Homo sapiens: one gene and its partner. The protein of the gene in region 1 interacts with the protein of each later gene in a biochemical or structural test. Each region holds a gene or a part of one and is shown on either strand. Other genes may lie near its edges.

Region 1 (7,021 bases):
AACTAGCAATGTGACCTTGGCCAGGCCCTTTTATACAAGTACTCCTCAGTTTTATTAATTAGAAGGAACTGATGAGATGCTCTTTTAAATATCCCATCATTTCTAAAGTTTTATGATTATCGATGCTTACTGTAAAAGAAATACAACATACATATTTGAGAAAACATTACAGAGAACAGGGAGGCCCAAACATAGATGGTGCATCTCATCAACATTCTAATATAGAGTAATGATCACTGGCTCTAAACAAACTTTGCAACCAAACAGAAACTTCGTATCTGCTAATCTCACGTTGCTCCCCAAGAAAAATCTAACTGAATGTTCTGGAAAAGTAGTGGAAAAGTTAATTGTTTGCAGAAAGTTAACTTTTACCTGAAGTGACAAAATAAAGTGGTTACCCAAAGGGGTAAAACCTAGCGTTGGAGTTTATCTTATGGGTGTAGTAGATTTGCCTTAAACTCAAAGATTTGTTTTGCTGGGTTAATGGGTGTCCAGTGGATCTTGAGGATGAGAAAGGGAAGGAACTCTGTTCTATGTGTGGGAGCCTCTAACCCCTTAATTTCTACCCAATTAGAGATTTTTACTCAGTTTCATTTTTAGCGTGTACATATCCTTTCTATCATTGCCTTTATTCAAGGATAGTTTCCCTTTAAGATAATCATTAAAAATTTCTTCAGTTTTTAAAATCTTATCATTATATAGTTCACCATTATAAAAACCACAAGAGTCATGTTTTGCAAGATTTTTATAAAAAGACTTTTTACATCAAGATACTTACTGATTCAGACAAGGAACAATCCCTTTTTCTGTTTTAAACTACATATCAAGACTCAGAAAAATCCATAAACTTTCAGGTAACTTGTGTCTCTTTGCAGGCAAACCTAATTAGTGAAGATATTGAAAGTGCAATCAGTGACAGTAAAGGAGGGAAACAGAAGAGGCGGCCCGACGCCCTGAGGTAAAAGCATTGAAAGAAATCAAGGAGTGGAATTGATTTGTTTCTAAGGCTTTTTTCCCCAAAGAGTTAGAAAAATTATTTTCTATGGAAGTATATTATTGTATTGTATAGATCATAACCTGTAGTCTCAACACATTTGTTCTCCCAAGTTTGTCAGTGTGTTTACTCCTCTTCTCTCCATATTTTTGGTCTTTCTCTGATATGGCTTCACTTGTGTTGGAAGTCACAGAGTCATGAAAGATGAGTGGCATTTTAAGAGAAGGTATCCTAGGGAAATACAAGCTAGACAGTAGGATTGTAATTGTTCCATGGCCCTTTCAAATCACATAAGACTCAGAAGGAAAATCAACCTAGTTTTCAGCTGACTATTAATTTTTTTATTTCATATGCATTCATAAATATGCATAATGTGTAATGCTTAGGAAATCCTTATTGTCCCTTGACATAGTTCTTTTTGAATTTTAATAACTAGTACCACAAGTTGAGTTAATTGATATGTTATAGAAATAGAGATGGTAAAAATTCTATTTGTTTTCATCTTTTTAAGGATGATTTCCAATGCAGACCCTAGTATACCGCCTCCACCCAGAGCTCCTGCCCCTGCGCCCCCTGGGACCGTCACCCAGGTGGATGTTAGAAGTCGAGTGGCAGCCTGGTCTGCATGGGCAGCCGACCAAGGGGACTGTGAGTCTTCCTAGAATTAATACTTATTGAACACTTACTTTGGGTTGGGACATAGTTCTTGCTTTCAAATTCTGATGCTGATTTCAGAACTGAAGCTTGAGGTTAGTTTTTAAAAAATCAACTCTGGCCGGGCGCAGTGGCTCATGCCTGTAATCCCAGTGCTTTGGGAGGCCGAGGCGGGCGGATCACCTGAGGTCAGGAGTTTGAGACCAGCATGACCAATATGATGAAACCCCGTCTCTATTAAAAATACAAAAATTAGGTGGGTGTGGTGGCATGCGCCTATAATCCTAGCTACTGGGATGGTTGAGACAGGAGAATCACTTGAACCGGGAGGCGGAGGTTGCAGTAAGCTGAGATCACGCCATTGCACCCCAGCCTGGACAACAAGACCAAAACTCCATTTCAAAAAAAAAAAAAATCAAATCTTAGATAAAATAAAGTTAAGCCTTGAATTTTGTTAAGATTATTATCTGTAAGAGTTTAGACCCACCATTTAATAAATATGGTATTAGGGTTAGAGTCTTTTTATTTTTTTAATGCTAAGAGGAAGTTTTACTTGATTGACAAAAAGATGGCAACAAAATATATACAGGTTTTTCTTAAAGATTGCACTTAACATTCTTTCCATTTTTTATTATCTAACTAGAGTCCCTTTTTGGACAAGTTTGTCATATTCATGGAAAGGTTGTCAGGACAGTGGTTGGCTGCTGGCAGTGGAGAAGGGTAAAAGGTATCCATCATATGACTGTTCTTGTCAAGTGGGCCCTATGAGCGTGGCATCATTTCACCTTGGCATTCTGTTTAAAAACAATTATAACATAGAACTTAGTGTTACTTTTTATATGTTAGAATATTTTACTAGAATCTGAAATGTTTATAACTAAAAAAATGCCTTAAAATATGTTTGGTCTAGTATCTTCATTTTAAGGACGAATAAATTGTGATTCAGCAGGCTCCAATCTGATGAACTCTAGAGCCTCATTCTTTTGCCGCTACTCCAGTGGAACTTCTTAACTTCTTATTCTTTATCCAGTAAAGTATTATTCACACAGGGTATCTGGCACTATAGTTAAACGATATAACTCATTTCCAAAAATGAGTCACCTCGGACTCTACTTTGGATGTGCAGAGTAAAAGTTGGACTCTGAAGCAAGACCTGATATGTCTACCTGTGTGGTCTTGGGAAGTTATCTCTCTGTACTTCGGTCTCATCTCTGAAATGGGGATAATAATTCATGGGTTGCTCTGAATCTGAAAGTAAATAATGTTTATGGTAGTACCTACTACAAAATAGTAAGCATAATTTGTGGTTTTCATTTTGCCAAATTGAGTTCATTTTCTTTCTGAATTGTTTTCTATTTTGTTTAGGTTTCTTGTATTCTTAAAGGTTTTTTCAGAGGTTGAAATGTAAGCCGAGCTACCAAAGATATGAAAAAAAGAATTCTTTGATGCATTTATTTAAAAAAAAATTAATTAACAGAGATATGTAGTTTAATTTTATAACAGTTTCCGTTTTCATAAGTTATGTAAATTTGTATTGATCTGCTTTGTATTTAAAATGTGTTTAAAAGACAGTAATTTATTGTATTCTATACTTTTTGTGTACTTATGGTGTTTTTGTTGTTACTGTTTCGATGAAGAGGGTCTGAAGTAGAGGAAGGATAAGACAAGTTTACAGACATTCTGAACAAACCTGTAAAAATATATGTTGAACCTAATATATATAATATATATTATGTATATTATATGTTGAACCATATATATATGTGTGTGTGTATATATATATATATATATATATATATATTATTTTTTTTTTTTTTTTTTTTTTTTTTGAGATGGAGTGTTGCTCTGTCACCCAGGCTGGAGTGCAGTGGTGCGATCTCAGCTTACTGCAACCTTTGTCTCCTGGTTCAAGCGATTCTCCTGCCTCAGCCTCCCAAGTAGCTGGGATTACAGGCGTGTGCCACCATACCTGGCTAATTTTGTATTTTTAGTAGAGATGGAGTTTCACTGTGTTAGCCAGGATTGTCTTGATCTCCTGACCTCGTGATCCTCCCGCCTCAGCCTCTGAAAGTGCTGGAATTACAGGCGTGAGCCACCATGCCCTGCTGAACCTAATATAATTTATAACAAAGACAGAATTTATCCCTAGGGGTTTCTGAGCTTTCATTAAATTTTATCTGAAATATTTTCTGCAATGTCATCTGTTTAAGTGAGATAAGGCTTTCAGAACTTCTAATTTACCACTAGCCTAAACAGAAGACTTATTATATCAGGTTTGGCCTGGGTCCAGTCCAGTTTTTAGTTGGAAAGCCCCTCAGGAGGAATATCTTTTTGGTTCCTCTGGATGCTCCAGCTGACTCAGGCTGAACTGCTTCTCCGTTGAATCCCTGAGGCATATCTACCCCTGACTTCCAAAGGTGATCTCTGTGGAATAGCGCCAGTGGCACTAGGGTTCCTAGTCGTGTTTCAGACCTGACAGAGCCCAAGAAATACCATATCTCCCCCTCACTGTGCCCTCCAAATGATATTTTTTGGGGCCTCTGTAGAGTTCCTAATAGCTATTTCAACCTCAACTTAGTACTTTCTGTGGTAGTCCACTACAACCAAGGTAGCAGCTATCTATGTGTAAAATAGTAGCTAACTGGCAAGATTTCATAGATAGAAATTTTAATTATCTTAAAGTAGTTAACAGCCGCTAATTAAGTTTCATAAGACACGATGATTTCTTCTTTCTTTTTTTTTTTTTTTTTGTTGGCAAGTGTTCCAGTTACAGGTAAAGTTAGTGTAAAGGAAGAATAGCAATACAAAGTGTCCAATTTTTTTTTGCAGTTCTCTCTATTGAACATCATGAGTCACGATGATGTATCATGAGTTGTATTTCCATTTGTGGTGTTACGTTTCTGTTGTTCCATCCATATATTTTGAAATTTATTCTACCATGAGATATCTGTAACAACTCTCTGTGTTTAGAGGCAGTATTAACTGACTCATACCAGGAAGGAGTTCATGATAATAACTTCATGATTAACATCATGCTGTAGCCAACTGAGCAACCTTAATACCCTGAATGGTCTTAAGACATTTATTTTTTAATGTGAAAATTTCTGTCTGCTTTTAAAGCATGTAGCTTAAAATTAATGAGCCCAACATTGTGGGTTTTAAGCTTAATTACACTAGAATTTTAAGAAGCACTCTGCTGTCAGAACTCCGAAAGCTTTATTGTAGTCACAGTGTTGGAATGTATAAAAATTATAGCTCTGTTGCATTAGAACTTAGTTGACCAGCTTTTGAGAAGTAAAAGCTTGACTGCTGGTTTATATTTCTGGCTTGTGTAGGAATTAAAGGGTGCTAAGTTAAGGTTGGTTCTACAGGTAGCTGACTCAGGGAAGAGAGAGAATGGGGTGATATTACAAGGTAAATTAACATCATAAAGTTGAGAGGACTAATACTTAAGCTCTGCTCAACTGCTCCTGTTAGTATTGACAAGGATGCATTTCATGGCTGATGAGCACAGTTTTGACTTGTGTATCCAGTGGAGGTGTTCCCTTTGGCAAATGGTCCTCCTTTTTAACTAATTTTTATGTTTTAATTGTCTGTATTGGTATTGTGGGAGTAAAAGATTGAAAGACTTATGATTGTCCTTTCTATAGTTGAGAAACCAAGGCAGTATCATGAGCAGGAAGAAACACCTGAGATGATGGCAGCCCGCATTGACAGAGATGTGGTAAGTACAGGAGTCGCCTTTAGATCACTGGCTTTTCTTTTAAGAGGAAAAAGAAAACTTCATAAGAAAATGAAGCTGATTTAAATAGAGATATTTTATGGAAACCATGTTTTCTGTTACCTGTGATGGCTATGCCCTTTGAATTTGCCCTTTGAATTATTTTCTCGTTAAACATTTTTGCCTTTATGCCAATATTTAGTTAGTAGACTTGGGCTATGATAGAAGAATCAGCTTATTAACTAGTTTACATTGGAACTTAGGCTGAATTATTAGATTTCAGGAATGGTACAATTTTTATTTTATTATCGTTTGTAATTCATAATTGAAATATCTTTTTAATATGTCTTCTTGGCATTTATTAACAATGTATTTTAGAATACCTAAGAGATAAAAGTTAAGTGGCATTTTTAAAGGATAGATTTGTAAATCGTAAAGCTTTTATAAAAGATAATGCTACATTTGTTTTCTTTATAGTGATTTACAGAATGAGAATGCTGTAAATGCTTTATTATAGCATTTTCATTCTTTAAATGAGATCTAGAATATGATGTTAATACATTACTTTTTATACCATATACATGTTACCAGCTTATTGAGAAACAAATACTGAAAGGAATTTGAAATTTCTAATTCAATTTTTACAGCACACTATTACATGTTATACTTAAAAGTTTAACCCCAATTTGTAGTCTTAAATTAGAAGAATGTCAAGTTTCACACATACTGGAGAAAGGCAACTAAGACTATAGTATATAAGATAATCAAATTCATTCCAGTGATCTCTGAAAGCATGGTGCATTATTCTATTTTGTCATGTGGAAACTCTTATTAATGCTTAGTATCCTAGACTAGCTATTAGGTTATCACAACAATCTGTATACCTTTAATTCCATGAAGTAATATTGTCAGTGCTTTATTGGGACATTTATCAGTAAAGCAAAAATGTCAGTGCTCTTCTAACAAAACCTATTTTAGAATTTTCCTCCTAACTGTGTGGGAGAACACTGAGAAAATTAGAGTAATTGAAAATAATAATCTGAGCAGATATTGTGAATGCTTCCTTGATGACATTGAAAATAGAGCAAAAGTAAGCTAAAGAAAAATGTAAATGTCAGAATATGGCTATAGGTATATTTAGTTTGATTCTTGTAATTAGTAATAAACTTGAAATTGGCATGTGGGCTGCTTCCTTTTCTAAAAAAACCTTTCTATTATTTACTAACAGAGTACAGCTAAGGTAAAAATAGTTTTGTTTTATATTTTATTCTATAATTTCTAATTTCAGCAAATCTTAAACCACATTTTGGATGACATTGAATTTTTTATCACAAAACTCCAAAAAGCAGCAGAAGCATTTTCTGAGCTTTCTAAAAGGAAGAAAAACAAGAAAGGTAAAAGGAAAGGACCAGGAGGTAAGTTGGATTTTCTTAATCTTCTAATGCCTGGTTAGATCTCCAGTACTGGCTGGGCGCAGTGGCTCACACCTGTAATCCCAGCACTTTGGGAGGCCGAGGCGGGTGTATCATCTAAGGTCAGGAGTTCGAGACTAGCCTGACCAATGTGATGAAACCCCGTCTCTACTAAAAATACAAAAATTAGCCGGGCATGGTGGCATGTGCCTGTAATCCCAGCTACTTGGGAGGCTGAGA
Region 2 (7,797 bases), on another chromosome or scaffold:
GGGTGAGTGCCCCCCTCCCGGCCCTCCTGGGGACCAGGGCCCCCTTCACCCCACCCAGCTGTAACCTCCTCCCACCCTCGCCATCCAGGAAGGATGTTAACTTGGCGGAGTTCGCTGTGGCTGCAGGGGACCAGATGCTTTACAGGAGTGAGGACATCCAGCTAGGTGAGGCAGTGCTGGGACACGAGGGCACAGGCGCGGCTCCCAGTCCCGGGCTGGGAAGTGCATCCTGGGAGCGGGGACCTCAGCCTCCTCTCCTCCCACAGATTACAAAAACAACATCCTGAAGGAGAGGGCGGAGCTGGCCCACAGCCCCCTGCCTGCCAAGTACATCGACCTAGACAAAGGTGAGCGGCGGGGGCGACCTCAGCCCATCTCAGAGCCCTGCCTGTCCCCATTCCACCTCACCTGGGACCAACGATGGCAGGCACCAGCCAGGCCCGGGGCCCCTGCCACCTCAGGCTCAGAAATCCCTGGGGAGTCCTGCGGGGGGGTCTGCCCTGTGTCTCCCACTGTGATGAGGGTGGAGGACAGCCGCCAACCCGTTGGCGCCCTTGGCTTCCAGGGTTCCGGAAGGAGAACTGCAAATAGGGAGGCCCTGGGCTCCTGGCTGGGCCAGCAGCTGCACCTCTCCTGTCTGTGCTCCTCGGGGCATCTCCTGATGCTCCGGGGCTCACCCCCCTTCCAGCGGCTGGTCCCGCTTTCCTGGAATTTGGCCTGGGCGTATGCAGAGGCCGCCTCCACACCCCTCTCCCAGGGGCTTGGTGGCAGCATAGCCCCCACCCCTGCGGCCTTTGCTCACGGGTGGCCCTGCCCACCCCTGGCACAACCAAAATCCCACTGATGCCCATCATGCCCTCAGACCCTTCTGGGCTCTGCCCGCTGGGGGCCTGAAGACATTCCTGGAGGACACTCCCATCAGAACCTGGCAGCCCCAAAACTGGGGTCAGCCTCAGGGCAGGAGTCCCACTCCTCCAGGGCTCTGCTCGTCGGGGGCTGGGAGATGTTCCTGGAGGAGGACACTCCCATCAGAACTTGGCAGCCTTGAAGTTGGGGTCAGCCTCGGCAGGAGTCCCACTCCTCCTGGGGTGCTGCCTGCCACCGAGAGCTCCCCCACCTGTACCACCATGTGGGACTCCAGGCACCATCTGTTCTCCCCAGGGACCTGCTGACTTGAATGCCAGCCCTTGCTCCTCTGTGTTGCTTTGGGCCACCTGGGGCTGCACCCCTTGCCCTTTCTCTGCCCCATCCCTACCCTAGCCTTGCTCTCAGCCACCTTGATAGTCACTGGGCTCCCTGTGACTTCTGACCCTGACACCCCTCCCTTGGACTCTGCCTGGGCTGGAGTCTAGGGCTGGGGCTACATTTGGCTTCTGTACTGGCTGAGGACAGGGGAGGGAGTGAAGTTGGTTTGGGGTGGCCTGTGTTGCCACTCTCAGCACCCCACATTTGCATCTGCTGGTGGACCTGCCACCATCACAATAAAGTCCCCATCTGATTTTTAGACTTGTCCCAGGTATGCTTCTGAAACTCCGTCTCCTGGGGCTGGGCAAGGCATGAGTCTGGGCCTGGGAGTCCTCGTCTCCACCTGGAACCCCTGACATCATCCCATTCCTTGGGCTGAAAGGTCTGGGTCTGGGTCCTCTGGGAGTCGGTGTCCTGGGAAGGGGACCTTTGAGCTAGTTCTGTGTGGCTTCTGGTCGTGGAGGAGTTCAGATTCCCTTGAGGGCTGACCTGGACGTGAGGAGGGGGGACGTGGTGGTGGCTGTGAGGCCAGAGGGAAGGCCGTGGGAGCACAGCTCTTGGAGAGGCAGAGGGACGAGGAGCGGGAGTAGTGGGATGCGGGTCAGACACTTGCAAAGGGGGCGGGAGCAAAGAGGCTCCAGCAGAGACAGCCCGGGACAGCAGGGTGGTTCCAAGAGTCTTGGCCAGGCCAGCACGGATCTGGCCCTAGAATCCTTTCCCGCTCAGGCATCAGCTGGTTGGGTGCAGGATCTCAGCACAAGTTCAGGCGGTGGGAGGAGTGGCGGGAGCAGGAAGGCCCGTGGCCCGGGGTCCTGGCAGCACAGACCAGCGACTAACTGCTGCTTCTTGAAGCTGGCGTCACCACCCAACCCCATCCTCCAGTCCTCCCAGGACAGTGGGGGTGGGAAAGGGTGACAGTTGCCCACAAGGACCCCACACAAGCATGGATGGGGAGGGAGGGAGGCTGGTCTGGGGAGGTGTGGCTTGAAGATGCACCCCCCTCCCAGCCCGGTTACCTCTGGCCTCACCAGTGGCCACACCTGTCAGGGCCCCAGCTGGACCACATCCGCGTCAGCAACGGGACTGGCCTCAGGCCTCTGGCTTCCAGCCTCTCTTGAGACCTAGCCTGGGGTCAGGCCCTCAGGGCAGGGACAGGCTTCCTCCCTCCCTGGGGCCTCAACAGATAGCCCCTCTTAGGTCTTCCTGCCTGGCTTCTGACCTCTGGGGAAGAGAAGGGCTGCGGGAAGGTGGAGGGGGCTGGCGGCTAAGCTGTCCGGGCTTGGCTGAGCAAACGCCACAGTTCTCCCTCTCAGAGCCCGGGTGCAGGGTCAGGATCCCAGGCCCAAGCTGACCGTCAAGCACTGGTGCCTGCACTGATCGGTTTCTTTCCGAGCCGGTGCAGCCCCCAGCACGGTCAGGGCCCGATAGATGCCAGTTCCATCTCGCCGGCTTCCTGGGGACGGGAACCAAGGGACCCCACCGCACTCTCTTCCCCATCGCTCCAGCCCCGTCCAGGCCCCCTCCTCACTCCCCCCGTCGCTCCTGCCCCGTCCAGGCCCCCTCCTCACTCCCCCCGTCGCTCCTGCCCCGTCCAGGCCCCCTCCTCACTCCCCCCGTCGCTCCTGCCCCGTCCAGGCCCCCTCCTCACTCCCCCCGTCGCTCCTGCCCGGTCCAGGCCCCCTCCTCACTCCCCCCGTCGCTCCTGCCCCGTCCAGGCCCCCTCCTCACTCCCCCCGTCGCTCCTGCCCCGTCCAGGCCCCCTCCTCACTCCCCCCGTCGCTCCAGCCCCGTCCAGGCCCCCTCCTCACTCCCCCCGTCGCTCCTGCCCCGTCCAGGCCCCCTCCTCACTCCCCCCGTCGCTCCTGCCCCGTCCAGGCCCCCTCCTCACTCCCCCCGTCGCTCCTGCCCGGTCCAGGCCCCCTCCTCACTCCCCCCGTCGCTCCTGCCCGGTCCAGGCCCCCTCCTCACTCCCCCCGTCGCTCCTGCCCCGTCCAGGCCCCCTCCTCACTCCCCCCGTCGCTCCTGCCCCGTCCAGGCCCCCTCCTCACTCCCCCCGTCGCTCCTGCCCCGTCCAGGCCCCCTCCTCACTCCCCCCGTCGCTCCTGCCCCGTCCAGGCCCCCTCCTCACTCCCCCCGTCGCTCCTGCCCGGTCCAGGCCCCCTCCTCACTCCCCCCGTCGCTCCTGCCCCGTCCAGGCCCCCTCCTCACTCCCCCCGTCGCTCCTGCCCCGTCCAGGCCCCCTCCTCACTCCCCCCGTCGCTCCTGCCCCGTCCAGGCCCCCTCCTCACTCCCCCCGTCGCTCCTGCCCCGTCCAGGCCCCCTCCTCACTCCCCCCGTCGCTCCTGCCCCGTCCAGGCCCCCTCCTCACTCCCCCCGTCGCTCCTGCCCCGTCCAGGCCCCCTCCTCACTCCCCCCGTCGCTCCTGCCCCGTCCAGGCCCCCTCCTCACTCCCCCCGTCGCTCCTGCCCCGTCCAGGCCCCCTCCTCACTCCCCCCGTCGCTCCTGCCCGGTCCAGGCCCCCTCCTCACTCCCCCCGTCGCTCCTGCCCGGTCCAGGCCCCCTCCTCACTCCCCCCGTCGCTCCAGCCCCGTCCAGGCCCCCTCCTCACTCCCCCCGTCGCTCCTGCCCCGTCCAGGCCCCCTCCTCACTCCCCCCGTCGCTCCTGCCCCGTCCAGGCCCCCTCCTCACTCCCCCCGTCGCTCCTGCCCCGTCCAGGCCCCCTCCTCACTCCCCCCGTCGCTCCTGCCCCGTCCAGGCCCCCTCCTCACTCCCCCCGTCGCTCCTGCCCCGTCCAGGCCCCCTCCTCACTCCCCCCGTCGCTCCTGCCCCGTCCAGGCCCCCTCCTCACTCCCCCCGTCGCTCCTGCCCCGTCCAGGCCCCCTCCTCACTCCCCCCGTCGCTCCTGCCCCGTCCAGGCCCCCTCCTCACTCCCCCCGTCGCTCCTGCCCCGTCCAGGCCCCCTCCTCACTCCTCCCATCCTGGGCCGCCCTCTAGTGGCCTCCGCGCTTCCTGCTGGGGTCGGGTCGGGAAGGCCTCCAGCCCCGCGAGCCCCGGAACAGTAAGCGCGGACGCCCCGCGGCCTCAAGGGACGCCTCGGAAGTCTCCCCTGCCCTGCGGAGAACCCCAGGACTAAATCCCTCCCGCCGCCGGGCGCTCCGACGCCTCCGTGCACGCCCGCGCCCCCGCGCGCCCCGCATCCGCTCGGCCTGCTGCCTGGACCCCGTGGGACCCGGCAGAGGGCACGCGAGTCGGGAGCCTTCGCGGTGGCGCAGAGCGACCGGGCGCCACCTCAGCGCCGCGCACCCGGCGTCCCCGGGGTCCCTCCGCCCGACCCGAGCGCCCCGGCGCCCACGGGCCCACAGCCAGCGGCGCGCGTCGCATGCGCCGGATCATAATGGAGCGCGGGCCCGCGCGCGGGGGCGGGGCCGGGGCGGGGCGGGGCGAGCGATGATCGCCTGCGTCTGCGCATCCTCGCCCCGCCCCCGCCGTGCGCCCCCGTGACGTCAACGCCGCGCGCTCGGGCGCCCCCCCGCGGCCACGCTCAGGACCCCGGGCCGGGCGGTCCCTTTAACGGCGCGGCCCGAGGGGCGCAGGCGGGAGGGCGGCGGGGCTGAGCGCGCCCTCCGTGCTGCGTCCCTCGCGCCGCTCCCGGGCCGGGGGCGGATGGGCGGCCGCGGGCCGCGGGGCAGCAGTCGGGACGCGCGCGGGAGCCGGGGGCGGCGGCCGGGGCCTGGGCGGTCGGGCGGGGGCGCCCGGGGGCCTCGGAGCGTCGGGGCCGAGAGCGGTGCGGGCCGGGCGGGGCGCAGGCGGGCGGGCGGGTAGCGCCCCGCGTCCGAGCCCCGGGCCGGGCCCTGAGCGCGCGGGCTCCGCGCCGCCGCCGCGCCATGGCGGAGACCAAGATTATCTACCACATGGACGAGGAGGAGACGCCGTACCTGGTCAAGCTGCCCGTGGCCCCCGAGCGCGTCACGCTGGCCGACTTCAAGAACGTGCTCAGCAACCGGCCCGTGCACGCCTACAAATTCTTCTTTAAGTCCATGGACCAGGACTTCGGGTCAGTCGGCCGCGAGGCCTGCGCGAGCCTGGCGCGGGCTCGGGGGTCGCACCTGCCCGCGCGGGGACGGGGCGGGGGTCCTGAGCCGTTCGCGCCCCCGGGGACCTGCGACCGCGACGCGCCTCCGCTAGATGCGGCGCGGGTGGCGGCCTCGGCCCGTGTGCGGCGCGCGCCCACCTGTCCGTGGAGCGGGGCGATGGCAGGCGGGGTTCCCGGCGTCCCTGGCCCCAGCTTCCCGGCCCCGAGTCCTGCCTTGGCCCGTGTCAGACTCGGTCGGCCGCATCGCTTCCACCGGGGCTGGCCGGGAGCGCCTGCCGTTGGTGCGGGCTGGGGTCAGGGGCGTGTCAGTGGGAAGGAAGCAGGGTGGGGTTCCCTAGCTGGGATGGGGAGACATGGGGGTACAGGTTCACCAACCTGTCTGCTAGGGTTTGCAGAAGCTTCCCGAGGGTCAAGACAGGTTCTCCTGGCCCCCTTCTGCAGGGTCCTTGTGACAGGGTGGAGGTCAAGGGCCACTGGTGACCATGAAACTTTATTCGCCTACCCGTGTCCTGAGCTTCCTGTGGGCCCCGTCCCCACTGAGCCACAAAGCACTTGCGTTCCCGGAGCAGCCCAGACCATCTGCTGTTTCGGGGCAGCCTGGGTCAGCGTCTCCCTGCTGGGCCTCGGTGGTGGTGTCCCAGGCGAGGAGACCCCTGCTGTGCTGAGCTGGGCCCTCTGGGACAGGGAGCAGGAGCCTGGCGGTCTGCTTGAGGCCTGGCCTGGCCCGGCCCAGCCACCAGTAACCTGAGTCCCTAGTCCCAGCTCAACAGTGCTGGGGGCGGGCTCAGGCCTCGTGGCCCCAGGAGGTGAGCCTCCGGCAAGCGGTGTCCTTGTGTGTGGCCGCTTCTTGGGATTGTGACATTAAGGTTGTTTCTTGGATTCTGTGGTTGCAGGGTCCTCAGGCAGCCCCAGGTCCAGTCAGGCTGGGTCCGCTCTGGAGCTCTCAGGGGGGCCCAAGGGACATCTAGACAGCTGTACTTTCCTTCCCCACCCCCACGACCAGGCAAAGCAGAGAGGGCAGGGTGCGTCCTTGGCAGCCTTTGAAGGCTGGGCGCTCCCCACTCGGCTCAGCGGCCCTCCTGCCCGCTCCGGTCAGGTTGGGCAGGAGGGGGCGGTTTGTTTTCTGAGTCTGGTCCGGGCTCCTCCCCAGCTGGGGCACCTTGCAGTCCCTGCTTCTCTGGGCCTGGGCTGCTTTGGCCTTGAGCATGGGGCATGTGTCAGGTACTTTTGTTTTTGACTTAGTTTATTATTCTAACGAAAGTTACCAAAGTTACTAATGCTGTTTGTTGCAAATGTGTGCCACCAGGAAATGCGTAGTGAGGAGGTGCCCAGCCCCCAGGTTCTGCTCCTGGACCATGCTCTGGGATGAAGCCCTGGGGGAGTCCGCCTTCTGCTCCTGACACCCACCGGGGGCTGCCCAGGGCAGAGACAGCCTGACTGTTGCCCTAGTGCACTTCTAGCAGTGGCTGCACCTGCTGGGCACATTTGGAGGACGCGTGGGTGCCCGGGCCTGGGAACAGGGTGGGCAGGTCTGGGTGTCGAGGCAGGCTTGGGGATGCGGCCAGGAAAGAGACAGGGGAGCTTCAGTGTACAGCTTTGGAGGCTGCAGACTTACAGGGGGCTGGGAGTCAGTGGGGCTGCAGAGGTCAGGGCTGGGCTGGGCTGGGCTGTGGGGGTTGGAAAGAATGGACTGGGGTGATGCTGGAGGTCCAAGACGAGGGCCTTGCTCTGTAGCCTCCCAGGTCCTCTGGCTGGGATGGGGGCCTTGCTCTGTGTCCTCCCTGGTCCTCTGGCTGGTGGCCTCAGGAGCCTACGGAGGACCCTCATCAATTACTTCCTTCATCCCTTCCCCTGAGTTCTACCCGCAGACCTCTCAGCACTGTCTGTTCTGTGGAATAGAACCCCCGTGGGAGGGGCTGGTTGGTCAGTAATACTTTAGCTTAAGCGACTGCTGAACTAGACACTGACCCTGGATGCCAAGCGAATGTAGTTGGAGATGGGGGGAAGAGAAGGCAGGTCCTCGCTGGTCTGGGGTGGCCTTCATAAGAGAGGGAGCTTCAGGCTGGGGACGCTGAGGAGGCCCTGGTGAGTCGGGGGTTCCTGCGCCAGCCCCCGCTGCATTCTCAGCCCAGCCCTGGTTCCCCAGCCTCTGCTCCAGAGCATGACTGACCACCTTGCAGTGCAGGGAGCCTGTGTCATGGCCACAACCACGTGCCCTGGTCTGGACCCCACTCCCCACGCACGGCTTTGGCCCAGTGGGTGAAGGTCCCCCGCCTGTCCTCCACTTTTCATGCCCTGGTCACAGCTATTCTGACCCAAGATCCCCAGGGCTGGGAGGAGGGCAGAATTGGGGAGGGTCTCTGCCTGGTGCTGGGTTTGGTGGTTGGCAGGGGGTCTCGCCCAGCCTTGGGCCGAGGCAGAGGAGGGAGGGTGTTTGGCTCCGGGTCCCCACTGCTGGG

The links.
Region 2: the proteins of EPS8 (region 1) and DVL1 form a complex in vitro, tested with the Homo sapiens proteins (one study listed by BioGRID).

The regions. Positions count from the first base shown.
Region 1 is NC_000012.12:15,660,377-15,667,397, reverse strand, and holds part of EPS8 (epidermal growth factor receptor kinase substrate 8), read left to right. Parts: intron 1-875; coding exon 876-958; intron 959-1,505; coding exon 1,506-1,642; intron 1,643-2,291; coding exon of another isoform or gene 2,292-2,293; exon of another isoform or gene 2,294-2,604; intron 2,605-4,591; exon of another isoform or gene 4,592-5,062; intron 5,063-5,298; coding exon 5,299-5,372; intron 5,373-6,657; coding exon 6,658-6,784; intron 6,785-7,021. UniProt on the Homo sapiens protein: Signaling adapter that controls various cellular protrusions by regulating actin cytoskeleton dynamics and architecture. Depending on its association with other signal transducers, can regulate different processes.
Region 2 is NC_000001.11:1,346,398-1,354,194, reverse strand, and holds the start of DVL1 (segment polarity protein dishevelled homolog DVL-1), read left to right. Parts: upstream 1-4,776; 5' UTR 4,777-5,129; coding exon 5,130-5,299; intron 5,300-7,797. Other genes in the region: MXRA8 (matrix remodeling-associated protein 8 isoform 1 precursor), read left to right, coding at 1-2, 89-165, 249-347, 863-894. UniProt on the Homo sapiens protein: Participates in Wnt signaling by binding to the cytoplasmic C-terminus of frizzled family members and transducing the Wnt signal to down-stream effectors. Plays a role both in canonical and non-canonical Wnt signaling.